Linked DNA regions of Homo sapiens. The protein of the gene in region 4 purifies or fractionates together with the protein of the main gene of each other region. This does not show direct contact. Each region holds a gene or a part of one and is shown on either strand. Other genes may lie near its edges. The genes, in order: PCYOX1, TBC1D17, TBC1D15 and UBAC2.

Region 1 (7,023 bases), on a different chromosome or scaffold from region 4:
TGCTATAACAAATTACCACAAACTTAGTGGCTTAAAACAACACAAATTTACGGCCGGGTGCAGTGGCTCACACCTGTAATCCCAGCACTTTGGGAGGCTGAGGCGGGTGGATCACGAGGTCAGGAGTGCAAGACCTGCCTGGCCAAGATGGTGAAACCCCATCTCTACTAAAAATACAAAAATTAGCCGGGCATGGTGGTGGGCGCCTGTGATCCCAACTACTCGGGAGGCTGAGGCAGAGAACTGCTTGAACCCAGGAGGCGGAGGCTGCAGTGAGCCAAGATTGTGCCACTGCACTCCAGCCTGGGTGACAGAGCAAGACTCTGTCTCAAAACAAAAAACAGCTCTCCCTCTCCCCCTCCCCCTCCCCCTCTCCCTCTCCACGGTCTCCCTCTGATGCCGAGCCAAGGCTGGACTGTACTGCTGCCATCTCGACTCACTGCAACCTCCCTGCCTGATTCTCCTGCTTCAGCCTGCCAAGTGCCTGGGATTGCAGGCGCGCGCCGCCACGCCTGACTGGTTTTCGTATTTTTTGGTGGAGACGGGGTTTCACCGTGTTGGCCGGGCTGGTCTCCAGTTCCTGACCATGAGTGATCTGCCAGCCTCGGCCTCCCGAGGTGCCAGGATTGCAGACGGAGTGTCGCTCACTCAGTGCTCAATGTTGCCCAGGCTGGAGTGCAGTGGCGTGATCTCGGCTCGCTACAACCTCCACCTCCCAGCCGCCTGCCTTGACCTCCCAAAAGTGCTGAGATTGCAGCCTCTGCCCAGCCGCCACCCCGTCTAGGAAGTGAGGAGTGTCTTTGCCTGGCCGCCCATCGTCTGGGATGTGAGGAACTCCTCTGCCCGGCCGCCCAGTCTGGGAAGTGAGGAGCGCCTCTTCCCGGCCGTCATCCCGTCTAGGAAGTGAGGAGCGTCTCTGCCCGGCTGCCCATCGTCTGGGATGTGGGGAGCGCCTCTGCCCCGCCGCCCCGTCTGAGATGTGAAGAGCGCCTCTGCCCGGCCGCGACGCCGTCTGGGAACTGAGGAGTGTCTCTGCCCCGCCGCCATCCCGTCTGGGAGGTGAGGAGCCTCTCTGACCAGCCGCCCTCTCTGAGAAGTGAGGAGCCCCTCCGCCCAGCAGCCGCCCTGTCTGGGAAGTGAGGAGCCCCTCTGCCCAGCCGCCACCCCGTCTGGGAGGTGTACCCAATAGCTCATTGAGAACGGGCCATGATGACGATGGCAGTTTTGTCGAATAGAAGTGGGGGAAATGTGGGGAAAGGAAGGAGAGATCGGATTGTTACTGTGTCTGTGTAGAAAGAGGTGGACATAGGAGACTCCATTTTGTTCTGTAGTAAGAGAAATTCTTCTGCCTTGGAATGCTGTTTATCTATGACCTTACCCCCAACCCCATGCTCTCTGAAACATGTGCTGTGTCCACTAAGGGTTAAATGGATTAAGGGCGGTGCAAGATGTGCTTTGTTAAACAGATGCTTGAAGGCAGCATACTCGTTAAGAGTCATCACCACTCCCTAATCTCAAGTACCCAGGGACACAAACACTGCGGAAGGCGGCAGGGCCCTCTGCCTAGGAAAACCAGAGACCTTTGTTCACATGTTTATCCGCTGACCTTCCCTCCACTATTGTCCTATGACCCTGCCAAATCCCCCTCTCCGAAGAACACCCAAGAATGATTAATAAATACTAACAAAAAAAAAAAAAGTTATAATCTTACGGTTCTGTAAATTAGAAGACCAAAGTCAGTCTCTCCGGGCTAAAATCAAGGTGTGCACAAGGCTGGTTCCTTCTAGAAGCTCTGAGGGAAGACTGTCTTTTCCAGCCTCTACAGGCCACCTGCATTCCTTGGCTCGTGGACGCACACCCCTTCCTAGCATCACTCCAATCTCTTCCTTCCATCATCACATCTCCTACTACCTACCCTGATCCTCCTGCCTCTCTAAGGACCCTTGTGATTATATTGGGCCCACCTAGATAATCCAGAATAATCTACCCATCCTTAACCATATCTGCAACGTCTCTTTTACCTCAAAAGGTAACACATTCACAGGTTCCAGGAATTAAGACATGGACATCTTGTGGCAGACAGCAGGGGAGAGGATTATTCAGCCTATAATAGGAGGCTACTCTAGCAATCCAGACAAGAGACAGTGGTGGTGACTTGGAACAAAGTGGTAGCAGTAATCCTGGAGAGAAGTAGTGGAATACTGGATGTATTTTAAAGGCTGATGGGATTCAAGATAGAGTGGGTTTGGGAAATGAAAGAACAAAAATTGACTCAAAATATTTGGTAGGAGTAACTGGAAGGAAGAAAGGGTGTTTATAAAGCCTTTCCCTGTGAGTCTATCAGTCTCAGATCAAGAAGTGTTAAGGATCTTACAAGTCCCCAGAAATGCACTAACTTGAGAGAGAAGAATAAGCTTTAACCTAGTCTACAAGCCAAGATATCTCAACAGGAAGCCATCAGCAGACCAGAGATTTAAATTCCACAAACATCTGAGTAAACATCTACTACATTCTAGTTACTGTGCGTAGCATAGAACACAAGCACACAGTGTGCACCGTATAATAAGGGATGTTTGAAAAGAAAGATGAATGTTGATTGAAGCATTAAGGAAATGCTTTGCTGAAAAAGTGAGATAAGAGGTTGGACTTGGGAGTAAAGAATGGCATCCGGCTGAGCGCGGTGGCTCACGCCTGTAATCCCAACACTTTGGGAGGCCAAGGTGGGAGGATCACTTGAGCCCAGGAGTTCAAGATCAGCTTGGGCAACATGGCAACACCCTGTCTCTACAAAAATTTAAAAAATTAGCCAAGCATGATGGCACATGCCTATAGTCCCAGCTGAGGCTGGAAGATGACTTGAGACCAGGAGGTCAAAGCTGCAGTGAGCTGTGATTGCACCACCGTACTCCAGCCTGGGTGACGGAGCAAGACTTGGTCTCAAAAAAAAAAAAAAAAAAAAAATTAGTTAAGAATGGCATCCAACCAGAACAACTACATAAATGTATGTGCAGAAGTGGAAATTAAGCTAGCTAGTGCTGATGTCAGGGGCTGCAGGATTTCCACTCAAGTACCTCCAACAGCAGAGAATGAATGAATGCACTGTTTTCGAGTATTGCCTACCACAAGCTTGAGCCCTCTTTCGAGTGTCATGGTTTACTACTGTTACATAGGTCTTTCTCCACCTTGTGTATACTTTGATCTTGGCTCACCACAACCTCCGCTTCCTGGGTTCAAGCGATTCTACTGCCTCAGCCTCCCAAGTAGCTGGCATTAGCTGCGCCTCCACACCCAGCTAATTTTTGTATTTTTAGCAAGGCGGAGTTTCACCATGTTGGCCAGGCTGGTCTCGAACTCCTGACCTCAAGATCTATCTGCCTTGGCCTCCCAAAGTGCTGGGATTACAGGCGTGTGCCACCGCGCCCGGCCCGTAAATTATTTTTTAAAGTCAAAAACAGTATAACCTATGTATCCCCTCACTGGTTCTTTTTCCCAGTTCTGTAATACCTTGAATTCACTTCAAAAGTGATTTCTTAGGCCAGGTGCGGTGGCTCATGCCTGTAATCGCAGCACTTTAGGAGGCCAAGGCGGGCAGATCAATTAAGGCCAGGAGTTTGAGACCAGCCTAGCCAACATGGTAAAACCCCATCTCTACTAAAAATAAAAAAATTATCTGGGTATGGTGGCACATGCCTGTAATCCCAGCTACTCAGGAGGCTGAGGCAGGAGAATCGCTTGGACTCAGGAGGCAGAGGTTGCAGTGAGCCGAGATTGCACCACTGCACTCCAGCCTGGGTGACAGAGTGAAACTCATCTCAAAAAAAAAAAAGTAATTTCTTAATTTCTCAAAGGGCAATTCTCTACATCTCAAGCAAGCCACAGATAAAAAAAAAAACAAGGCTGGGAACAGGAGCTCACAACCGTAATCCCAACACTTTGGGAGGCCCAGGTGAGTGGAACACTCGAGCCCAGGAATTCAAGACCAGCCTGGGCAACATGGCCAAACCTCATCTCTACAAAAAAAATACAAAAAATTAGCCAGATCTGATGGCACGTGCCTGTAGTCCCAGCTACACAGAGGCTAAGGTAGGCAGATCCCCTGAGCCCAGGAGGTCCAGGCTGCAGTGAGCCATGATCACACCACTGCACTCCAGCCTGGGTGACAGAGTGAGACCTGTATCAAAAAAAAAAAAAAAAAAAAGAGGGCCGGGCACAGTGGCTCACGCCTATAATCCCAACACTTTGGGAAGCCGAGACAGGCAGATCACAAGGTCAGGAGTTTGAGACCAGCCTGGCTAACACGGTGAAACCACATCTCTACTAAAAATACAAAAAATTAACCAGGCATGGTGGCATGTGCCTGTAGTCCCAGCTACTCAGGAGGCTGAGGCAGGAGAATCACTTGAACCTGGGAGGCAGATGTTGCAGTAAGCCGAGATCCCGCCACTGCACTCCAGCCTGGGCGACAAAACGAGACTCTATCTCAAAAAAAAAAAAGAAAAGAAAAGAAAAACAATACACACAAGCAGGGCTGATGCCATCAGAACTTGATCTGCCTGCTGAGTATGCAGCACCATGCCACCCACCTTCTATAAAGTGACTGGCCGTCTCTACGCAAATTCTATATATTTCCTTGGTTGTGTATTGCCTGTCTCTCCACTAGAATATATATTCTTTGAGGACAAGGACATGTTGTAGGTCCTATACTCTCAACATAGAACAATGCCTAGCACCTAACAGGTATTCAATATTGGGTGAATGAATGAATGGCTACTTAAAAACATTATGCACTGTAGATGGACTTAAGGTACCCACGGGAAAGGCATTTAAGGAACTGACCTAAGAATGATGTTGAGAAAGAAAGAAACCCCAAACTACCATGAGTTATAGAAACCAGAGCATATCCTGCTTAGCTTTCTTTTTTTTTTTTTTAGACAGTCTGGCTCTGTCCCCCAGGCTAGAGTGTAATGGCACGATCGTGGCTCACTGCAACCTCTGCCTCCCAGGTTCAAGTGATTCTCCTGCCTCAGGCTCACAAGTAGCTGGGATTACAGGCATGCACCACCACGCCGGCTAAATTTTTATATTTTTTGTAGAGACAGGGTTTTACCATGTTGGTCAGGCTGGTCTCAAACTCCTGACCTCAGGTGATCCACCAGCCTCAGCCTCCCAAAATTCTGGGATTAGAGGCATAAGCCACTGTGCCCAGCCCTGCTTAACTCATATTTGTCCTGTTCAATACCTGGTCATATGACATGTTTTGTTTTGTTTTGTTTTTCCCCTCAAGATGGAATCTTGTTCTGTCACCCAGGCTGGAGTGTAATGATGCGATCCTGGCCTCCAGTACCTAAAACTGTAAAGCAGCATAAAAATTAGCATGTGCTAGCCGGGCACAGTGGCTCATGCCTGCAATCCCAACACTTTGGGAGGCTGAGGCAGGCGGATCACGAGGTCAGGAGATCAAGACCATCCTGGCTAACACAGTGAAACCCCGTCTCTACTAAAAATACAAAAAATTAGCCAGGCACAGTGGCAGGCACCTGTAATCCCAGCTATTCGGGAGTCTGAGGCAGGAGAATCGCTTGAACCAGGGAGGCAGAGGTTGCAGTGAGCCGAGATGGTGCCACTGCACTCCAGCCCGGGCGACAGAGCAAAACTCCATCTCAAAAAAAAAAAAAAAAAAAATTAGCACATGCCGGCCAAGCTCGGTAGCTCACACCTGTAATCCCAGCACTTTGGGAGGCCGAGGCAGGTGGATCACCTGAGGTCAGGAGTTCGAGACCAGCCTGGCCAAGAGGGTGAAACCCCATCTCTACTAAAAATACAAAAATTAGCTGGGCGTGGTGGCAGGCATCTGTAATCCCAGCTACTCGGGAGCCTGAGGCAGGAGTATCGCTTGAACCCAAGAGGCAGAGGTTGCAGTGAGCCAATATCGAACCATTGCACTCCAGCCTAGGCAACAAGCGAAACTCCATCTCAAAAACAAAAAAACAAAAAAACTAAAAAACTAGAACATGCCAACAGCTTTAAAAATACAGATTGTACCTTTCAAAATTAGACTGGCTATTTTATGTTAGTCTTCCTGATTACCAAAGTGATACATATTCACACGCATTAAAAAAACTGTTTAAATATAGAAAAGCATAAGGACGAAAAAGAGGCACCTGAATTCTCACTACCCAAAACAGTGCTAGAATGTAAATTCTTGGAATATGGAACTTTTACTCTACTTCAGGCTGCTGGTTCACTGAAAACATGTCACTATTAAAGGCCATTTAAGTTTTCTGATCCTTTCTACAAGCTCTTGTACACATTATCTCAATTCATATACACAACACCAGCACAGCATAGAGATTAAGAGTGAAGACTCAAAGGCCAGACTGCCTGGGTGGCAACTCCAGCTATACCACTTACTATGTGGGTGAACTTGCCTTTTAAAACCTCTCTACACCGCCACCTTCTGCATCTGTTTAAAGAAGCTAAAAACAGTACCTACCAGAGTAAGTTGTCATAAGAATTCAAGGCATCTAACAGTATCTGGCAACACTAAAGAAGCATTTGCAAAATACACTTCAGAAGCAAAAATAAACCAACCTTTCAATATCCAAGCAAATAGTCTGCATAGTTTCTACAAAACATTTTGCCTAACAATGTTATAAACAGGCCTTGCTGTGAGGTAGAAAATGCTTACAAGAAATCATAATTCCTAAAGTTCATCAAGTTTAATTTAACCTAAATTAAAAGATCTTAGGTTAAATGGAAGGAAAAAAAATTACCTCATGAACTTGTCTAACACGTCCTCTACCCACATGTGCATACGGAGGGATTGAAATCCATAGCGCCAAACTAATTTAATCACGTTAATTATGAACCAGTTGCTCTCCTCAAATACCAGAGTCTCTCCATTATATATCCCCAGTAGGCCACCAGAGGCCTGAACAGCAGAGAGACCTGCAAAAACATAAAGCACAGCTAAGTCAGTGGTGTCTATGCTGATCAAATGAAAGAACGTAATCTGAGTGAATT
Region 2 (7,742 bases), on a different chromosome or scaffold from region 4:
AATCACCCTAACTGGCTGCATCTGTCACCCCACCAGCCTCGAACCTCAGGGGCAGGCCTGGTGTGGGAGCACCCACAGCCAATCCGGGAGCCCAGTAGGATGAGCAAGGCTGCAGTCTCAGAGACACTGGCCATGTTGACCTGGGCTGGGACAGTCCTGTCTTCCCATTCACTTCCATGCTCCTGGGACTGGAAGGTGGTGACTGGTGGCCTTCTTGATTGTGGGCAGCAAAGCCCTTGGGACCGTGACCACTGAGGGCAAGATGTGTCCTACCTGGCCCACACGTGCTTCTCAAGGGCCGCCACCTCAGCCTACCTCTCGTGGGCTCTGAGTGGCAGAGCTGTGGCCGCACAGTGCTGATGACAGCCCAGTCAGGTTCATAGCCGGGGTCAAAGGTTGGTTCCTCCTCAGAAGCACATGAGTCACCCCCACTGGAGTCCTTAGGAGAGGAAAGGAGCAGACAGTAAGGGGCCATGGATTCAGATCTTAGCCTCGAGGCTACCCTGGAAGATAGCCCCATTGAATAAAGAGGGAAACTGAGGCACAAAGAAGGTACAGCAGGCCGGGTGCGGTGGCTCACGCCTGTAATCCCAGCACTTTGGGAGGCTGAGGCGGGCGGATCACCTGAGGTCGGGAGTTCGAGACCAGCCTGACCAATATGGAGAAACCTCGTTTCTACTAAAAAAATACAAAAAAATTAGCCAGGCATGGTGGCGCATGCCTGTAATCCCAGCTACTCGGGAGGGTGAGAAAGGAAAATCGCTTGAACCTGGGAGGCGGAGGTTGCAGTGAGCTGAGATGGCGCCATTGCACTCCAGCCTGGGCAACAAGAGCAAATTCTGTCTCATTAAAAAAAAAAAAAAAAAAAGAAAAAAGAAAGTACAGCACTTGCTCAGGGTCACCCAATGCAGCCAGAGAGCGAGCCAGGACTTGACCCCATGTCTCCCACTGCATGGGGAGGTCCATGCTACACAGCAGGTGGCTCTGCAGTCAGGCTGCGGAGTGCTCAATGGACACTGTTGTACTCACCAGGTAAATACAAACCAAAACCACAATAAGATACCACTTTGCACTCTTTTGAGACAGTGAGACTGTCAAAAAAAAAAAAAAAAAACAATAACAACAACAAAAAAAACACACTACATTTCCCAGGTTTCTTTGCAGCTGGAATCCAGGACACAGGACAAATTCTACCAACCAGATGCAGGCCAACCTGGAAAGCGGAAGTGATGTAACGCAACTTCCTGGTGCCTTGGCTGTGTTTGGCTGTGGAGCAAGGTGGAGAGTCATCTTCATCTTCATCTTCATCCTCCTGCCCTGGGGCAGCGCAGGTGGTCAGCTCAGCCTTCCAGTGTCTCGTCACTAGCTCTGTGGGTGCCGACTGACTTCCGGCCCCTGGGTGGAACTCATCAGCTCCAATGGAGGTCTCATTCCCCACTAAAGAACCCCCCTACAGAGGCATCCAACTTCTCCGTGTGCCTTGAAGGTTGTTCTGCTGTCCCTGAAATACCTTCTTGTCCTTTCATATCCTGGGAGTCCCAGCTCAAATGTCTGCTCTCCCAGGAAGCGTTGGGGATCTGGAATCAGACTGTCTGGGTGCAAAAAGTTCCAACACTTCCTAGCGTTTTCGACCTCATCTATCAGTTTCTCAAAAAGTGAGTAAGGGTCAGGGCTTAGGTGGGTCTGGATCTGACTTATCTCTGGGTCTCAGAATTGCCCAGGACGGGGTCCAGCCATGGGAAGTCCCAGGAGACATAACGAAGGGAAAGCCGGGAGCAGTGACGAAGTGGGTGAGTAGGCTGTCAGGCCCTGTCCTCTGGCACCAGAGGAAATGCCATTTCCCTTCAAGCAACTCGAATCCACATCTTGCACCCTGGCAGGGATCTCCCAAGAAGCAAAGGGAGAGAGGGGTCAGCCGTCCCCACGACCGTGCGTCTTATGCTCCCTGCTCTTTTTCCTTGAATGGGCATCCTCTGCCCATTTCACAGAGAGGAGCAAAAGGAGAGGCAGAGTACCCAAGCCTAAACAGGGTCACACATGCCCCACGAGTAGGTCTGGGATTGTACGCAGGTCCCTCAAATGACTTACAACAGCACGGACCTAGAAAAAAAGCGAGTGGAGAAGGGCAAAGCGGGTGGAGCCTACCTTCTTGGAGAAGAGGATTTGGGTGGAATCTCCAGCCTCCTCTACAGGAGCCCAGTGCAGGAGGACGTCATTGTCCTAGGGTAAGGAGGGAGGCGGGGTTAGAGGCGCTCCCCAAACCACATTCCCAAAACTTTCCGTTGCAAATTTCCAAACTTTCCCAGTTTCTACCCTCAGCCTTTCAAAGTCCCGCCCCTCATTCCAGTTCCCACACCCAGCCTTCTTCAGGTCCCACTGCTGACCGCCAGACCAAACTCCTACAGCTGCCGCCTGCATCCCAGACCGCCTGCATCCCGCTCGGAGCGGGTCCGAGCCCTGCTCCCTCCCAGCGCACCTTTTCCACGACACGGATGACACCAGCGATGAGAGAGTCTCGGTCCTGATACTTCTTAGCGCTGGTGTGCAGGTACACTCCGCCCTTCTCAAACACCACCTGAGTTGGGGGGAACCAGCGAGGGCTGGGGCCCAAGCGAGGGGACCAGCCTGGGGAGCCAATAGGGACGGGCCCAGGGAGGAGCCACCCTCAGGGGGCGGGGCCGGGAGGGCCATTGCCCCGGGACCAAGGCGGGGAGAATGGTCCAGCCCGCGTTCGGATGCTGACGTGCGTTCCACAGGGGGCAGGGCTCAAGGAGTCGCCTGAGCCGGGGGGGCGGGGCCATGGGAGGTTCTTCCCTGGGGCGGTGGACGGGAGGGTGACGGCGCGTTTATAAGAGATCGGTGTTTGCCAAGGCCGTGCCGGATTCTCGAGAGCCAAGGCCTGAGAGAAGAGCTGATCACTAGACGGGGCGTTTCGCATACACTGAAGCGAGGGAATGCGTCCTCAGTGCTTACCCTGTAGCCGGCTCCTTCCATAGTCGCCGCCGAAGGCCCCACTGCCCCGCCTCCTCCTTTTCCTAGTCAGCGTGTTGTCACTTCCGGAGAAAACAGTTCCCCTCCGGGCCGGACAGTGGTAGCGGCCCGACCCGTTCTAGAGAAGGAGCGGGTGAAACCATTTTTCAGAAGGGGGTTATTCCACTGGAACCTCGAGGGTGGATCGGAGTCACGTGGCGCAGACGCTGAAGGTGGATCCGGCTACGGAGAGTGCGCAGGCGCAGTGTTCGCCCTCTCGCCACGAAGTAAACAAGTGGGAGGGTCTGAGAGCTGCACCACCTGGGGCAAGCACGCCTTGAAACGCCCACTTCCTTCTCCATATTGTATACTGGAATTGAAGCCAAGGAGGTACCATTTTGCTCGAGGGCATGGCCTAAGCCGGTCAGCTAAGGCCATGTTAATACGGGGCTGTCCCATCTCTCTGCGGGGCGCGACAGCTGGAAGAGCCGAACGGATAAGAGAAGAGGAGGTGAGAGGAGCTGTACACCACAAGAGGCACTGAGGGACTCAGGATAACGGGATGAAGCCGTCAGTGCCCCCAGAAACGAAGCGGCCCCGGACGAATTTCTGAGTCACCGTCGCGAGAAAGCGGGCTGAGCCGCCATTTTGAAGCCTGGCAAACCGAAGCAAGAAATGCTGCCGTGTTGGATCTTTGCCAGCCTTCGTGCCGAATGGGAGCAGGTTGGAGGGAGGGAGAGCCAATATACACTATGGGCTGATTAAGCCCGGTTGGCTGCCATGTTGTTAACGAGCACCGATTTCCTCTACTTTTGTCGAAGAAGTTTATTGTGGGTCAGGGACGTCAGGTCGCTTGCCTTCGTTTACTGTGGTCATGATTGAGCATATGAGGACGGCCATTATTGTTGGGGGCAAATGGAAATGCTCTAGGCGGGGCCATTTTTCTTAGGGGCAAGCTGTCGTCACCCTTGTCAACTGGTTCGGATGAAGCCCCTGTGGCCGCCATCTTGATCTCGGGCGGCCCCGATAAGGGAGGCGGAGTGTGCGGAGAGGAGGCGGGGCAACTGCGCGGACGTGACGCAAGGCGCCGCCATGTCTTTTGAGGGCGGTGACGGCGCCGGGCCGGCCATGCTGGCTACGGGCACGTGAGTGGAGGCGGCGTTGTTAACCGCGGTGTGGGGAGGATTTGGCCGTCCTGAGGCAGCGGGGCGCTGGGAGGGCGAGCGGCTCACGGGAGGGGTATGGCCTGCACAGATCAGAGGGCAGAGGTCTGCCAGCGATCCTTTGCTGAGCGCTGGAAGGGGGTCGCCCGTGGGAATCGTCCTGTCAGACCTGAGGCAAATCGTAGACAGTCTCACCTTGCGGTTCCAGAGCGCCTGGGATCTCTACCTGGGCCGTGGACCACGTCCACGGGGTCGGGGGATGGTTTGGGGGGCCTCGGGGCGCCCCTCACCCGTCCAAAGGCGGGACTTCCGGTCCTGGCCTCCGTCTGGGCGGGATTTCCTGTTTTCTTCCTAGACCAGTGGGTCCTCCCTGGACCCCGGGCGAGGTTGGGAGGTCTCGGGGCAGCTGAGCGTGGCCCCAGGCGCTCACCCCATGGCTACCGCGTTCATGCTCAGGTTCCTCACATCTTGGGGTGTGGGGTACTAAAATTTCGACAGGAGGGGTGGTTCCACCCCTCTCCTCCTTAGCTCTTTTCCCTCCTCCCTGCATCCAAAGAGGACAGCCACATCGTGCTCCCCCTCCTGTGGGGAACACGTCTCACTTTCCTCTAATCTCTCCCTGATCTTACACGAAACTCGTCTATCGGGGCGGGTTCTTCCTCCATCTCTCAGCTCCTTGGAGGAAACAGGACCTCCTCTAGAAGCTGAAGGGTAAGGAGGACCCCCAGGTCTTGGCTACTCTCCTGTTGGGTAGCATTACAGGGTGCCCCTGGACCTTGGCAAAGAGGTCTGTGGAAGTCGCCCTGTCCTTTTTGCTCATGTCTCCTGAGTTGGGGGAGCCCTCACAACTCACTCACCCTATTTCACTCTTTAATCCCGTGGCTACTCCAAGATTGAGTACACGGAGAGTTCATCCTGACGTTCTCTTCCGGGACCTCCTCTCCCCCTCTTCTCCGCATGTCATTAGGGGCTGGAGGCCCGTGGAAGTGAGAGCCCCAGGCCTAGCACGGCGAGGCAGTTGACTTTGGACCAGCCATTTCTTGCTTAGAGCCTCAGTTTCCTCCCTCATCAGCTGGGAAGGACATGGGTGTGTTTGAGACACCGGGTACCCCCCAGTTCAGTGGGGTTTTGGGGCTGGGCAGTCAGCAGTTTCAGCCCCACTTGTGCCCTGTGTAGCTGTGTGCTTTTTTGCCAGTGTCCTAAGCTCTCTGAGCCTCACAGTTTCAGCCCCACTTGTGCCCTGTGTAGCTGTGTGCTTTTTTGCCAGTGTCCTAAGCTCTCTGAGCCTCACTTTTCCATCTGGATTAGAATATCTGCCCTCCTAAAGGCAGGCAGGATGGCGGTCAGGATTTAGAACAGGCCCCGGATCTAGACTTTCTGAGTCCAGGTCCCAGCCCTGCCTCTTCCAGTTGTGGCCCTTCAAGATGCTGACTGCCCCTGGGCCTGAGTTTGCAACTGTAAAATGGGGTGAACTGTAACTAAAGCTCCTGTCTCATAGTGTAGGTGAAAGGGTGGGATGAGAAGGTTGATCCCATCTTGGGTCCTTGCGTGGCTTCTGGGAGGTGGTGGATAAACCTCTTCCTTCCCTTGGGGCTTTGAACTCCCTGAGTGAGTCAGATAGGTGAGATGCCAGGTGTGGAATCCCAGCACTGAATAGGTGCTCAGCAAACACCAACATCAATGATCGTGAGTCATAAAAGGCCTGCAAATTTCATTCAGACTCCAGACTCCCTGCTCCCTTCACCCTGGTGGGCTGGACCACAGCTGTGCCTGAATCCGTGCAGTGGCGGTGTGCTTACTGCCTCCCGGAAGAGCGTCTTCCGCAGCCCAGCAGCTCTGGCTCAACCACGCTGGTTAATGGGGAAGAAAATGAGGCACAGAGAGGGCCAGTGAGCCATCTAAGGTCACACAGCAGGTTTGAGACAGAGTCAGGGCAAGGACCCAGCCCCCCTGCCCTCGCTCTTCTCACCCAGTAAGGAGACGCACCCTGCATTGTCTGCTTAGGGCCGACCTGTCCTGCAAACACAAATCCCTGACCTTGGGGGAATTCACAGTCTGATGCAGGAGGCAGCCAGGTTACAGCTGTCACAAGCTCAGGTGACATGAATGCTCATGGAGGAAGCCCAGGGCATCGGATGGGCTCCTGAAGTCATCTGATGCACCCTGGGGGATCAGGGACAACAGAGGACCTGCCAGAACAGTCTTGTAGGAAAAGCCGTGTGGATTTCCCAGCACAGAGAGCAGCGCCAGCACCATTTCAGCCCCGACTCTCTGAGGCCTCAGTCATAGAACCAGCCAGTTCCCTCTGGAAGGAAGTGTGCTGGGAAGGTGGCCACTCAGACAGTGTGGGACCCCCTATGGAGCAGACTGGCTGGATCTATGGGCGAGGGAAAGTTTCTTCCACCCTAGGATGAGTGAAAGGTTGGTGGGGAATGGAGCACAAGTCATCAAGGTCAGGGACCACGTTTTCTGAAGGCCTCGGGCCTCAGAGGCTCTGGAAGGCCGTGGAGGCAGGATGGCCCAGGAGCTGGGGATGGCCAGAACACCTAGAGCCTCCAGGGCCTGCCCTGAGGACTATGGCGAGGAGTAGCATCAGCTCCGGGTGCTGAAGGAACCCCCTGGGCCTTGTGCAGGACACTCTTGACGGGATGGCTGGGCGACGGAGCAGGGTGGCATCATCCATCAAATTCAACACAAGCCCCACGTGGAATTCTAAATTTTCTAGACACCATGTTAAAAGAGTAAAAAAAGCAGATGAAATTCCTTTTTTTTTTTTTTTTTGCCCAGGCTGGCTTCGAACTCTTGGGCTCGGTGATCCGCCTGCCTCGGCCTCCCAAAGTGCTGGGGTTGCAGGCCTGAGCCACCACGCCCGGCTCGTTCGGCTTTATTGTACTCAGTCTTCAGAACCCAGTGCAGGTTTTATTGTTAGAGGCCTCTCTGCTAGGACTCTCTGCTAGGACTCCCTGCCTTTCCAGTACTCCCTGTTCACATGTGGCTGGCGGCTCCCACAGAGGCCAGGGCAGGGCCAAAGGGGAAGGAGTACAGTGACTTGGGGCAGGAGGAATGGGTTGGGGCAGAGGACGTCGCCAGGGTCTGGGCCTGCGAGGACTGGATGGTGAGAATCCTGGGGAGTAGCAGGTTTGGGGAGGACACACAGCACCGCTGGGACAAGGTGGGTGGAGGGTGGTGAGTGCCATCCAGGGGACGGGCGGGCACTCTGAGTGGGTGGCGATGATGTAGGCCGCCAAGCCTCAGCCCCCTCTGTCCTGCTCTGGCCCGCAGGGCGCGGATGGCGTCGGGGCGCCCCGAGGAGCTGTGGGAGGCCGTGGTGGGGGCCGCTGAGCGCTTCCGGGCCCGGACTGGCACGGAGCTGGTGCTGCTGACCGCGGCCCCGCCGCCACCACCCCGCCCGGGCCCCTGTGCCTATGCTGCCCATGGTCGAGGAGCCCTGGCGGAGGCAGCGCGCCGTTGCCTCCACGACATCGCACTGGCCCACAGGGCTGCCACTGCTGCTCGGCCTCCTGCGCCCCCACCAGCACCACAGCCACCCAGTCCCACACCCAGCCCACCCCGGCCTACCCTGGCCAGAGAGGACAACGAGGAGGACGA
Region 3 (7,023 bases), on a different chromosome or scaffold from region 4:
TTTGTGGTTGCTTGTTGGTAAGGCAGTCATTTCATCTTCGGATCTCCAGTTTAGTGGCCACTGTTTAAGATATGGAGCCATAGAGTTATCTGAACCCAGATAGCTGAAAGTTGCCTATTTGTTCCTCTTTTATATGTATAGGCAGTGGTTTGACTTTCATGAGCATTTTTTATTTGGGTTTTAAAGAAATAATTTGACTTAATTTATTGTTAGAAACAAAATGATGGCAGTGCCAGCAGCACTGTGCTAGGAATAAAATTTTGTTTCTTTATTAGCTACTTTTCTTTTCTGATGCTACATTTCAAAGTCCATCATTTAAAAAATGCCTTGTGAGAGAATCTGTAAGTCTGCCTATTAATTATGACCCCTCAAAATATTCAGAAAAGTAAATGTTTTAAAATGTATTTTTTTTCCCTCCTATGTCAAATGACTCAACCTCAGCCCCTTTTGAAAGGCCAAGGGGCTTATTAGCTACTATTGTATATGCAGATCGAGTGCTGTTCCTGACTGTGTAAGAATATAAGATCCTGTTTTGGATTTCATATCCACTCTAGCATTACTGTTACATCCTGTTATGTTAGAATTGAGAAGGGATAACTGTTATTAAAGATCTTATCTCAAACATTTATAATAAACAGGAGGTGTATAGCAGCAAAATAACACATTTAATTTTTATTTTAAACATAGAAAATTTGTAGATTTATTAGAACTGACTAAGTCATAAAACTCACTAAATAGAAAAAAGACTGGATAATTTGTCAGATGACTAGAAATTAGATGTCTGTTTTGGAAACATTTTGTTAAATTCTGTCATTACTAAGAAATGTGAAGAGACTTGCTTCTAGAGTTTAATAAGCAAGAACTAAAAACATAGTATTACCCAACCATTCATAATAATCTTGTTAAAATATGTTCATATGTGTGTGTTTGTAATTATGGTTAGCATGATTAATGATCTTTATCAAATAACTAATATAGCTTACATTTTTAACATCTTATATTGCAGTATTACTAAGCTGTGAATGAAGGTGGAAATGATTTCAAAATAGGACATATTTTCTGTATGTAAATATTATATACTGATGACTCCTAATGTCTGTTTTGGCTTTCTTTAATTTTTATGATAATAAAGCCAGCTATCTTGTAATGGTTTTCTACTATAATTCTAGAGAAGAATTTAGGTTCATTCCAGTTTAATCCTTTTGGCTTTACCTGGAATAAAAATACACTTTATATTTGTTTTATTTACGTTATATACAGTGTATTTAGTATTTGTTAATTTTGTATTTTATGTTTCATGTAGTTTTGAAGCTCCTTTAAAATAGTTACTAAATATTTGCTAATGTATTAATGGAAAACTGTTAAAATATTTTGGGTTTTTTTTTTTTTTGGTAAGGAACATTTGTGTTAGTAATTGTTCATGTAGTAATTGATACAGTGTGTTAGTATTTTCTACAAATCCTCTTTTTTATTATAGATCTCCACAGGATAAAAGAACACTTCTTGTGAATTGTCAGAATAAGAGTCTTTCACAGTCTTTTGAAAATCTTCTTGATGAGCCAGCATATGGTTTAATACAAGTATGTTCCTTAAATCTATCCTGTATTATTCTGACTGCATTATTTTATATACCCTGTACTTCTCATCTTCTCAGAGAGTATGCAAAATGAGACAGGTACATATATATACATAGATATGTGTGTGTGTGTGTGTAATCTTTTTGGAACTATTCTCTAATTTTACAGAAACAATAATAAGTTTTCATGTTATTTGCAAGACTCAGAGGCTTCCTTGGTTCTTAGTTACTCATAAGGAAATTTCTCAGTTTATTATAATACTAAAATTAGACATCAGTAGATTTGTATCATAACTTTTATTGATTAGGCCAGGGATCACAGAGTAGGCCAGTTTGAATTCATTAATGATCGGTTTAGGCAAAAATCTGGTTTGAATTTAAGTAGATTGTTTTGACGTCATGACAATCTTATTCCCCTAAGAATATTTGAGTACTGTTCTTACATTTGGCTAAAAATGTGCACTTAATAATAGGCAGAAGTAAATTTAATTATCACTCAGATGACTATGTAAAGTAATGAGATGGTTTATTCATTTATTTATTTATTCACTTATTCATTTAACAAATATGTGAGTGCTTGCTGTGTCCCAGCTATTCTTTTCCTGGTTTTGAAGATGTAAAGATTAATAAGATATAGAGGGAACTTTAGGAAAGAGGATGAGAGAGAGAACTAAACACTGTTTAAAATGGACAATAAAAGGATAATTTTACTTATTGTGAAAAGAATTATTTAATAAATAACTGTTTTTGCTAAATATGAATGAGCAAATAGTTTGGGCTTCAGAAGTTACCCTGGCACTTAACAGTAGAAAAACCTTTTGCTGTTTTCCAGGGTAGCACTGTCCCAGAATAAATTATTCTTGTTGGCATGATTTACTATTCATATAATTAGATTAAAATGTCAACTAATATTTAAATATGAGTTTTTAAATTTAGCCATCAAATATTTTGTGTCAGAATAGCATGGTGGTACACACTTCAAGAAATATTTTTTTTGTATGAAGGCAGGACTGCTAGACAGAAGAAAGCTGTTGTGGGCCATTCACCACTGGAAAGTAAGCACTGCGTATGTTTTCTGATGTATGCAGATTGAGTGAAGCCTGCAAATCATTTGTTTATCTGCAATTCAATCAGTAGCATTAACTTGTCATTTATTATGCTATTTTAACCAAATGAAATGATTGGCTTAGAAAATTTAAATTTTTCTTTGAAGAAAGAAAATACAAATTTAAGATAATCTTAGAACACTCTGTTTTAGTCCTGATTTCTTTTCTTTTAAAAAGCTTTGCTTTTTTGCTCATGATGGAGTATTCGTTTTTCTTTATTTGAGTTAATAATGCTAATATTTTTCTTCCTACTGCATAGAAAATTAAAAAGGACCCTTATACGGCAACTATGATAGGATTTTCCAAAGTCACAAACTACATTTTTGACAGTTTGAGAGGCAGCGATCCCTCTACACATCAACGACCACCTTCAGAAATGGCAGATTTTCTTAGTGATGCTATTCCAGGTCTAAAGATAAATCAACAAGAAGAACCAGGATTTGAAGTCATCACAAGAGTGAGTAAAGATTAGTATTAATATAGCTCTTATATTTTAACAGGAGAACATGTACTATAGAAATAGAAACTTAATTTTGGTGATATCTGCTTCTTTCCATAATCTGTTCTTAACAACTTTTTGCTAGTATATCTGACAATGAGTGCTTGTCCTGCCACTAAGTTCTTCATTTGTTCTCTATCTTATACTCTTTCTTGATTAATGTTGGATCTCTCTTCTTTGATTACCTTTTGATAATGAAGTTTGTTTCATTGGGTGCATAGCAGAGTGAGGAGCGAACCTTTCCTATTACCTCTTAGTTCTGTTCCTTACTTGCATGTTTTCTCATAGGCATCAGAGACAGCTAGTCAGGATACTACTTTTAGGGCTTTTATTCTCATGTAATACTTCCTTTTTTAAGTAAGATGGGTTTTGGCCTGAATTATGGCAGATCTTTATATGTGCTCAGTAAGATTTAAATTTGCTACAATTCTAGGCTTGTACATAGTTAGAAAACTATAAATATCTAAATTTTAGTGCTTAATTAAAGGGTTTATCTTGCAAATACTATTTTAAAATTACCAACATCTGTTAATTGAATAAAACACTATAGAAAATGCCGAGTGAAGCTAGTGGGTCATGAATCAATTCTGAGAAATACAAACTTTAGAAGAAAAGCTAATTTTTAGAATATGATTAATGGAATAATTATATATTCTCTCTTTTTAAATAATACAGCATATCATTTGGTTTGAAGGTTTCTTACAGAATTTACATGTTGAATGTTCTATACTTACATAATTGAACCCAAAATAGTAAAGAGCTTTCTTTTAATAACAAATATTTTTAGTCTGTGGGGTTTTCTGTTTCTGAATTTATAACCCAGTTTGTTGTGTGTTTAGTAGAAGGGAAATACATGTAATGCTAACTATTATAGTTAAACTAAACATGGGAAAATAAGGAACAATCTTAAAAGTATTAGAAGTCATGTCTGAAAAACAGTATTTTAAATTTAGTTTCTATATGCCTTTATTTCATTTCACTGGTTAAATATGTACTTATTATTGCTTAATCTTATTTTTAGATTGATTTGGGGGAACGCCCTGTTGTTCAAAGGAGAGAACCGGTATCACTGGAAGAATGGACTAAGAACATTGATTCTGAAGGAAGAATTTTAAATGTAGATAATATGAAGCAGATGATATTTAGAGGGGTAATTTAAACACTCTAATATGGCTTGTCTTATAAACTCCTAGTATTTAGGGGTTTTGTTGTTATCGTTACTGTTTTGGTGTGTTTTTTTTTGTTGTTGGTTTTTTTTTTTTTTGGTGGGGGAAGTAGGGAGGAATGAACTCTGTTATTTCTTTGATGAATGATGCCTTAAAATTCCTGGATTGAGTAGGACAGAGTGAGGTGCTTATGATGTTCCTGGGGGTTGGGTAGACCCTTAACTCTGGGGGAAGAATTCTTCCGTACTTGAAGTTCTGTGGGTTTTGTGAAGGAGGCCTGCATTCCAGTGGCATTTGCCTTATTCTGTAAGATTGGGCTTAGACTCACCAGTCACACTGTCTGTCTGCTGTAGTCTACTGTATTCTGTAGTCTACTGTATTCTGTGCACTGTTTAAACTTTCTGGCAGCTGCTTACATCTTTTGGATCTAGAAGTAAAAAACAAGATGATATTCACTGAATTGAACTATTTACATATATGAAACTACCTCTTAAAGATTAGTTTTCCTTTTTATATGCAAGTTTTGTGAACTTACAGTATTACATTCTTTTTCATTCATGTATTTAATATGTATGCTTTCTTCAGGGACTTAGTCATGCATTGAGAAAGCAAGCATGGAAATTTCTTCTGGGTTATTTTCCCTGGGACAGTACCAAGGAGGAAAGAACCCAATTACAAAAGCAAAAAACGTAAGTAATGGTCTTTCGTACATTTATCAAAGAGATTCAAGTAACCCACTCATACAAATTAGTATAGGGTTTCTAGATGAGGATTTGGAATAGACTGGGGAATGGAAAAACAACTTCATTTTTATGTTTTAACTTAAAAATTATGAGCATTCTAATTATTTTAAATCAGAAACTTACTAGAAGCACCTTTTTGCATTTATTTTTGTGAATATGTAAAAAGAAGATAAACATATTCCCTTATATAAGCCTTGTACAAGCCTTTTGCATACTTGAAAGATAACTACGTAGACATACACTTAAAAACATCTCTCATTCATCTTGATTCATTTTTATAATTCATTATGAAATTATAAATGGCTCATAAGAAATATATTTGCTATTTAGATTAATTACCTTTAAGTTACTTTTCTGATACTCTTATAATGGATCCTTCATTCTTTTTGGAAGAGTATTTCTATTTTAAGTTATTCCTCAGACTTGAAAGGAAACACAGACCAACTTTCCAGGTACAACTTCTTGTTCTCAGTTGTCAGTCTAGCCTTTGATTTAAAGCTATTTTCAGTCATTATGTGCATATTTAAGTTATCTGACAGTCTTCTCTTTTCAGCTTGTTTACCAGTTCTTCTAAGACATTTTTACATTAACTAGTTTCTGCAATAAACTGCTTGGAAATGGAACTATAATGTCACATTTTTTAAAAAAAAAGTCACTTAGATTTGTATTTACAATTATTTGGAAACTTTAGTGGTTAAAATATTTCATGACTAGAATACTTTTAGACATGATTTTAAGGATGAGATAAATGTTTTTGTAAAAGAATACCTAAAATTATTCTAGTAGTTGAACAAAGTTTATCACATAAACTTTGTGATATTTATCGGTTATTTTTTTCTTTTGTTTTCACTTATTTATCATAACTTTAAACGTTTTGCTATTGTTTTTATAAACTTACATTCCACTAGCATCATAAATGCTTTGATATACTGTTTATAGAAAAACCCAATTAAACAGTGTTAAAAATAAAGTTTTCAAATAGCTTTCTTTGATGTCAAATTGTTTTCTATAGTGATGAATACTTCAGAATGAAACTGCAGTGGAAATCCATCAGCCAGGAACAAGAGAAAAGAAATTCGAGGTTAAGAGATTATAGAAGTCTTATCGGTAATTTTTTCTTAACAACTTTGGAAATGCAAGGGGGGATTACATTGAAATCTTGATAAGAGTAAAGAAGTGAAGATACATGGTAATAGCACTAGGGCTCAAAAGAGAAATCAGAATAGGAAAGTACATTGCAGTGTGTGTTTAATGTTCTTTGTTGTTCCTCTTCCAATAGGCATATTAATTCAGTAAGTTTATTTATAAGTGTTGATATATTTAATTTTCAGTTCCAAAGTATGAATTTCTAAAAAGATTGTTTACCTTTATTTGCTTTTTGAATTAATTTCATTTTTAAAAAACTTTATTTTCTTTTTTATTATGAAAGTCTGTTTATTGTAGAAAAATTAACTGTAGATGAGCAAAAAGAGGTAAATAGAAATTATTTTTGTTTCTGTCACCCAGAGATAATTATGGTTAATAGGTATTGGTTTATATCCCTTCAGAACTTCTTTAAATATACATATATTTCATTTTTAAAATTAAATAAATGACTCCAGATATAAAATTTAGTATTTGAAAATAGAATATTTACCTGGGGATAACTATTCTCTAAAACACAGAGATGCTTGATAGAATTTTATCATTAAAGCATTAGTTGCATTTCATAATCTCCATTTACAAATGAGAAACTGAAGCATGGAGAACATAAATGACCTGTCCAAGGTCACACATGTCCCAGTTTAATGTTCTTATTACACTGTCTCTGTAATTTTAGGATAGCATTGGATAGTACTGGAACTTAGTTTTGAAATTCCTATATTGTATCTGGATTTGTATATCCGTGGTTTCATAAAGAATGATAGAGGGATTTGTTACTGCTGTTAACACC
Region 4 (7,023 bases):
AAGCAAATATACCCATAATCCACCATGCAGGTACAGACCATGCCTGGCCAGCCCCGCAGCCCATGGTGCCCCCCTTCCTTCCCACCTCTCTTCCTCCTTCCCACCTCCCTCCTGTGACCCCTTCCCCTTCTTTCTCCCTCCCTTCTGTGACCCCTCCTAGCACACATAGTCATCATCTTTGCGCTTTCCTGTCTCGTTTTACTGCTTAGTGTGTGGTTTAGGTTCATTCATTCACAGAAGTGGAATCGTGTTTTCAGGCTTTGGGTCTGGCTTCTTTCTCCCAACATGGTGTTTTTAAAATGCAAACCTTAAATATTCCGCATGAATTTGAGGCTTGGCATTTACATTCCAACAAAACACCCTGTTAAGATTTTATTTTGAATGATATTTAATTTATGTATTAATTTGATGAAAATTGGTATCTTAAAAGTTTTGCATCTTCCTATTCATGGAACTGGTATCTTTATTATCACTAGGGTTGGTTTTGAAAAAATATCCCTTATTATCTTTTTCTTTTTTTTCTGTCAAGGCCTTATATATATATTATTTATTTATTCCCAATTATCTTACAGTTTTTCTTGCTGTTATTTGCTAACAGTTTATTTTTTCTTTCTAAACAGTCTGTATTTTATCCCTGGTTGCTTTTAAGGATTTCTTTCTTTTGTTTCACCACAGTGGATCTAGATGTAAATTTCGTTTTAGCATTCTTTTAGGGACTCTTGCCCTTTCATCCTAAGGATTTATATTCTTTCTTTATTCTAGAAAACTCTCAGCTGTTTATCTCTTTAAATATAATATCCTTTCCCCCATATTCCCTCTGTTGTCTTCTTCTGGAACCCCTATGCTGACAGCCGCATGAGATGCACATAATCTGCCTGTGCAGAGGCCTTGGCCTTCCCAACCCACATGGACCCTCCTTGGTTCATGCCCTACACAGCTTTTCCCTTCTCTCTGTGGAGGGGAGAAAGGGTACATGGAGCATGAGGAGGAACTGGGGTGCCTCTTACCCAGACTTAAGTAACCCTCTACTTCTCTCCTCCTTCCACAGGGCCTAGACCCTCTAGTCCAGGGGTATCTAGTCTTTTGAACTCTTCTGTGACACATTGGAAGAAGAATTGTCTTGGGCCACACATAATATACACTAACACTGAAGATAGCTGATGAGCTTTAAAAAAATTGCAAAAAAATCTCCTAACTTTTTTTCTTTTTTTCTTTTTTTTTTTTTTTTTTTTTTTTTTTTGAGACAGAGTCTCACTGTGTCGCCCAGGCTGGAGTGCAGCGGCACAATCTCGACTTACTGTAACCTCCACCACCCAGGTTCAAGCGATTCTTGTGCTTCAGCCTCCTGAGTAGCTGGGACCACAGGTGTGTGCCACCACGCCCGGCTAATTTTTGTATTTTTAGTAGAGACGGGTTTTTACCATGTTGGCCAGGCTGGTCTCAAACTCCTGACCTCTTGTGATCCGCCCGCCTTGGCCTCCCAAAGTGCAGGGATGACAGGTGTGAGCCACTGCGCCCAACCTTGTAATGTTTTAAGAAAGTTTATGAATTTGTGTTGGACCACATTGAAAGCTGTCCTGGGCCACATGTGGCCCACAGGCCTCAGGTTGAACAAGCTTGCTCTAGTCCCTGTGCTTTTCTGAGTCCCACAGGACTCTCTGCAGGCATTTGGACTTATATGCTGCTTATATGCAGAGTGGTTTATAATCACTTGATAAGCTTTCTATTTTGTTAGCATGGTTCAGGATTAGTTTCTGGTTTCATGGACCTTGGAGTTTGTTTCTGTTTTCATTTTCTTTGTCTTGTACTATTTTTGAGTAAAGGGGCACAGAAATTATTTGAAACCAGAAGTTGTCCACCATTCACTCTTCAGCCTACTACAGTCTGTCTTTGGTACCAAAACTGTTCTTGTAAACACCTTGTTTATCAAACACCTCCATTTGCAACATCCAGTGGCTAGTTCTGTCTTACTTATCAGCTGCATTAGATATAGCTGACCATCCCTATTTTAAAACACTTCTTAGCTTCAGTGATAACTAAACTCTATTTCCCTTCTCTTCACTGGCAGCCCTGTCTCAGATTTCCTTACTGGCGTTTCCTACTCTGTCTGTCCATAGAATATTTGTGCACTCCTGGATTCAGTCCTTAGTCCTGTTCTCTCTTCTGCTGTGTCTCCTCCTCCCCCCCATTTTATCTCCTCTAGTCCTGTTACCCTAAATGTCATATCATATCCAGTGACTCTGAAATCCTTATCTCGACCTTTTCCTTGAGTTCTAGAATTACATAGCCACCTGCCCACTCAGTAGCCCCCCAAGATATCTAATAGACACTCCCAAGCTCGGGCTGCGCAGCATCTGCTGCTTTCTCTGCCCAAAATGTTATTTCCCCAGTTCATCAAGTCACGGGCACCGCATCATCCTTAAGATCTTCGCTCAAGTATCACTTTCTCTGAGGGCTCTCCTGATGTCCCCCGCTGCCCCCAGAGTAGGTTCGTGCCCCATGTCACTTTATTTCCTTCCCAGAACTTGCCAGAAATAGTTTTATGTGTTGACTTGATTACTGCCTGTTCTCCACATTGACTGCTATAAGCCCTGTGAGAGTGGGGCCTTGCTTATCTTGTTCTTTGCTGTATTCTAAGTTCCCAGAACAGTGCCTGGTGTGTAGCACAGTCTCAAAGAATTCTTGCCAATTCATCAATTTAAATTTTATTTTTAAACATTGAAGTATACTTTTCTCATATTAGAAAGTTGTCAAATATGTTCTAATCTGATCTTCTAATCCTAAGAATCAAATTCACATCAAGATTTTTTTTTTTTTACAAAGGAATAGCCATAGTCATTTTTAACTAGAAAATCATAGGAAGCCTTGAGACTTCTGTAACCATACATTATAAATGACCTTCAAGATGAAGACAAGGTTGGTTTATAAATGGAACTAATATTGGTGAGGATTTTAAATGTCTAGAAAAATCAGTAGTTGAAAAACTGATTAAAACACTATGTAAATAAAAACCAAGATTTTAGATTGTGTTTATTCTCTGATAAATTGATCGTGTGACTGGGTCAGCTGAGACATGGCAGTTGTTTTCTGCTGGTGTCTCTGTGATGGCCATCTGCCAACAAAGGTAACCGCAGAGTCAGTACAGTGTGAAAGTGTTTCAATAATCAGATCTTTTACGGCTTTTTAAAAAATGAAGACAGTGTCTTGACAATCTTTTACCAGAACTTTGAATACTAAATGATTAGAATTTTGCTAGCTCTTCTAATTCAATAAAAAACAATTTTGTTTTACTAAGTTCAATTTTGTGTTGATTTGCACTGCTTAGTGTTCTGCAGTGTGGTAGAGGATTTTGCTTATTGCCTAACACTGCTATGACTAAGAAAAATACCGTGTGCAGTGTCTGGAGGCTGCTGATTTTTGAGTCGTGTACATTTTTTAAAATAATACTACATTTAAACAATCACATTGGACGTTTTTCTTCTAGATGTCCGGTCTGTGCTACGACAGCAAAATGTTCCAGGTGCATCAGGTGCTCTGCATCCCCAGCTGGATGGCAAAATTCTTTTCTTGGACACTTGAACCCATCTTCTCTTCTTCAGAACCCACCAGCGAAGCCAGAATTGGGATGGGAGCCACGCTGGACATCCAGAGACAGCAGAGAATGGAGCTGCTGGACCGGCAGCTGATGTTCTCTCAGTTTGCACAAGGGAGGCGACAGAGACAGCAGCAGGTAAAAGTGATAATAATCACTAAAAATTTAGAAATTCTCAGTGGCCCAAGCAAATCTTTCCTCTGTGATTGCATGTGAGATAGAGACTACATTTTATTCCAGTGCCTTGCAAGTGGATTTTGACATTTCCAAAGAGATTGTAGGTCTCTGTTAGTGGCCATTCTTAGTTTTTTAAAAAGGTAAAAAATAAATTGCAGCTGAAAGATTGGTCAAACTGGACATTCTTGTTCCACCTATATTAGATAAGCATGACTTCTTAGAGAAACACCAACCTAGTTAACAAGATGTGCTATTTATCTGTTTTTATAATCTTGTAAAAGCCACAGTGTCTTCCTGTTAAAATGCTAATCATATGCTATGGAGTGAAGAACAAATGTAAAATTTCTTGATTTTCCTTGGTTGAAATGAAGAGAATATGAAGGCAAGAAGATTTTCAGTGGAACAACCAAGGAGTAGATAAAAAAAAATGCTGTGTTTTCTCAACCTTGCTATCAATAATCAGAAATTATTGCACATTTGTCTACAAATTCTGCATCCAAACAATCTGATACTACATTTGTCTTCCATGGGCAGTGAGAGAAGGAGGGTTAGTGCACATCAGGCTAAAACCTCAGGCCTGATCTTTCTTGGACACTTCTGTGAGCCAGCCCACAGGGCTCCCCATTTTTCGCCTCCACCTTCTTTACCCCTGGGGTAGTTGTAAACCGTACAGTTACCTCTGCCATCTCTCTGTCTTCCACTAGCATTGGATGCAAGAAGTAGGTCTGCAGATCTCACGATGGTTTGGAGAAGTGAAATCAGGTTTGAGGTCCTTAGAGTCCCATTGGAGATGCAGGTCCCAGAGTTTATATCAGGGGGGGGGAGGAAGGGGGCAGCTTATTAGGGGCAGAGTCTACAAGAGAAATAGAGAAGCAAAAGTTGTTTCTTAAAGATGTGCTTGAATTTGAGTGACTCTGGAACATGCCATAAAGATGCCCATGGTGTATTTAAAGCTGGAGGATGGACATCTCTGTCTTGGAAATGTGGAAGCTACATATATATATAGGTGATGGAGTCACCTCTGTAGGGATGAGAGCTGAGAGCCGAAAGCAAAGAAGTAGTAAGTTCTGTAAGAGAAGAGCTACATCCAAGATGAACACAGGCTACAGATGAAGCCTCGTATTTAGCAGGAGGTAAATCCTTCAAGGAAACTGAGAGAAGAGCGAAAGGTATGAGAAATCAGAATGATCAAGGTCAGAAAAACTGAGTAGTGATTGAGTATAAAGGTAGAGGCACAGAGCTTATGAGGGAGAGAAAGAAGTAGGGGATGGTTCTGATGTTTCTGGCCTAGATAATCTTAGATAGATGACTGATAGTTCCATTTCACCAATATCAAAAGAGCAGATTTGGGGGAAATATGTTGTCTGAGATACCTTTGGAATCCTGGGAGGAGATTCTCCATTGGAGAGCTTTGAATTTGTCCTCATAAGCAAACCAGAGAAGTTGCATTTCTCAGATTGGCCTCCCCAGGAAGATTTTTATACAAAGAGTTTATGAGAGAACACCGTCAGCATCAGTATCTATGGGGGCGGGCTGGCGAAGGCAGCAAGATGGGACAGAGGGAGCAGCTGCAGTTCCAGCAAAAGCCTCGCTGGTCTTATGGAGCACAGTGAAGCTGGGAGAGCCCTTCTGAGTTGTCCCAAAATGGGGACCAGTCCTGTTGGGTAAGTCCCATGCGTACGACCTCTTTGAACCTTAATTACCTCCTTAAAGTTCCTACCTTTAAATACAGTCACATCGTAGGGTTAGGGCTTCAGCGTGTGAATTTGGGGCAGGGGCAAGGGGTGGGAGACAGTGTGTTCCATAACACTGCAGAGTGGAAAGGGCCCAGCATAGTCTCGGCGCTGAGTGACTGTTCTGCTTGCAGACGGTAGTTATCAGGCACACACAGTCTCTGTGGATGCCAGGTTGGATGCTCCATAGTGGCAGGAGATAGGTCGGCCTAGGTGAGGGGGACCCACACATTCCTCTGTGCTACCACCATGGCCATCCATTCGTGTGCCAGCGCTGGGTTATCTGGTGATGGAGCCACAGTCATTCTGTCCACCTTCCATTTGGTGCCTTTTCTGTGGTGGATGCCCGTGGTGGGCACGACCTGCAAGACACTTGATGCTGTTCCTTTAGCTGGATCCTCCTTGTTCCCTCCCTTCCAGTCCCCTGACCGACCAACCAGGTGATCTGCCATGCCCAGCAGATCCACACGTGTAATTGCCTCAGGCCACTTCTCTTCACACAGAGTTGATGACCAAATGTGCTGCCCAGGCTCTGCCCATAGGGGGTTCCCCTGATCGCTGTCTTTCAAGATTGAGCCATCATGCAGCCGTTTCTTTCAGCTGCCACTCATGTCCTGAGCCAGCCTGTCCATTTGGCTGTTTTCCCCTCTGTCACTTGGTCATGAGGGGCCCACCAGCTGTGGTAGTCGGTGTTAGCTGGGAAGAGGCTGTGGTGCAGCAGAGGTGGCTGCCAGGGTGGTCTGGCATGCCTGCTTCTGCAGCTCACCCATGCCCTGCAGCCCCACCTATGCTGAGCCCAGATGCCCGTGTCCATCTGATGATGGGTTTCTGTCGGCCCACCTGGCTTGGTAACTTGGTGGGTCTCCACTGCTGACCACATGCTCACTTTGTGGCCTACAGACAGGCACTTCATGGTGCAGCAGCAGTTTATGCAAGTGGGATTCTTGGCTGTTTGCGCACGCCCTCGCTCCAGGATTCTACGGACCCCCATTGTGGTTCTCCTTTCCTGCCTTGCTGTAAACTCCGCACGGTGTCTTTCCCCCCAGATACTTGGAACATCACGGGATCTGCCAGGTTGTACCCAGGCCTCAGGGAATGAGACAGACCCAAACCCCTGCCCTGCTGGAGCGTGCATTCCCACCAGGCGCCTGTGAAGTGGCACAGGCCTTTATGGCTGTCTACACTGCTGTCAGACTCCTCCACTTTCATAGGATGGTCTCACTAACAGATCTGAAGTCCAGAGCAGGACACCAGCCCCTGGGCTCTTGCTGGGCTTTTACGTTGAGTGGTCTGCTGGGCAGCACAGACCAGACTCTTGATTTTTTCCTAAGCTTCCTAAGTTCTCTTCTAGGGTCCGCACATGGGTACACCCAAACCTGAGCACTTAGCCTCCTGCTGAACTTCTTCACTCAGCTGTGTCTCAGTTTTCTTCACATAAGTATGATAAATCACCACGTAGAGAACTCTTTTGTTAAACCACCACTGGAAATTATCTGCCGTATTTGTGTGCATGCACGAGTA

What was found.
Region 1: the proteins of UBAC2 (region 4) and PCYOX1 purify together in Homo sapiens (affinity purification with mass spectrometry; 2 studies listed by BioGRID and IntAct, with this or other methods). This does not show direct contact.
Region 2: the proteins of UBAC2 (region 4) and TBC1D17 purify together in Homo sapiens (affinity purification with mass spectrometry; 2 studies listed by BioGRID and IntAct, with this or other methods). This does not show direct contact.
Region 3: the proteins of UBAC2 (region 4) and TBC1D15 purify together in Homo sapiens (affinity purification with mass spectrometry; 4 studies listed by BioGRID and IntAct, with this or other methods). This does not show direct contact.

What each region holds. Positions count from the first base shown.
Region 1 is NC_000002.12:70,261,137-70,268,159, reverse strand, and holds part of PCYOX1 (prenylcysteine oxidase 1 precursor), read right to left. Parts: intron 6,949-7,023; coding exon 6,774-6,948; intron 1-6,773. UniProt on the Homo sapiens protein: Prenylcysteine oxidase that cleaves the thioether bond of prenyl-L-cysteines, such as farnesylcysteine and geranylgeranylcysteine. Only active against free prenylcysteines and not prenylcysteine residues within prenylated proteins or peptides.
Region 2 is NC_000019.10:49,872,976-49,880,717, reverse strand, and holds the start of TBC1D17 (TBC1 domain family member 17), read right to left. Parts: upstream 3,017-7,742; 5' UTR 2,995-3,016; coding exon 2,974-2,994; intron 2,576-2,973; coding exon 2,477-2,575; exon of another isoform or gene 2,362-2,476; intron 2,221-2,361; coding exon 2,146-2,220; intron 440-2,145; coding exon 316-439; intron 1-315. Other genes in the region: AKT1S1 (proline-rich AKT1 substrate 1), read left to right, coding at 4,063-4,115, 7,416-7,742. UniProt on the Homo sapiens protein: Probable RAB GTPase-activating protein that inhibits RAB8A/B function. Reduces Rab8 recruitment to tubules emanating from the endocytic recycling compartment (ERC) and inhibits Rab8-mediated endocytic trafficking, such as that of transferrin receptor (TfR).
Region 3 is NC_000012.12:71,891,745-71,898,767, forward strand, and holds part of TBC1D15 (TBC1 domain family member 15), read left to right. Parts: intron 1-1,006; exon of another isoform or gene 1,007-1,061; intron 1,062-1,477; coding exon 1,478-1,580; exon of another isoform or gene 1,581-1,675; intron 1,676-2,053; exon of another isoform or gene 2,054-2,055; intron 2,056-2,580; coding exon of another isoform or gene 2,581-2,631; intron 2,632-2,941; coding exon 2,942-3,139; intron 3,140-4,202; coding exon 4,203-4,331; intron 4,332-4,932; coding exon 4,933-5,036; intron 5,037-6,102; coding exon 6,103-6,197; intron 6,198-7,023. UniProt on the Homo sapiens protein: Acts as a GTPase activating protein for RAB7A. Does not act on RAB4, RAB5 or RAB6.
Region 4 is NC_000013.11:99,336,836-99,343,858, forward strand, and holds part of UBAC2 (ubiquitin-associated domain-containing protein 2 isoform 1 precursor), read left to right. Parts: intron 1-3,484; coding exon 3,485-3,730; intron 3,731-7,023. UniProt on the Homo sapiens protein: Restricts trafficking of FAF2 from the endoplasmic reticulum to lipid droplets.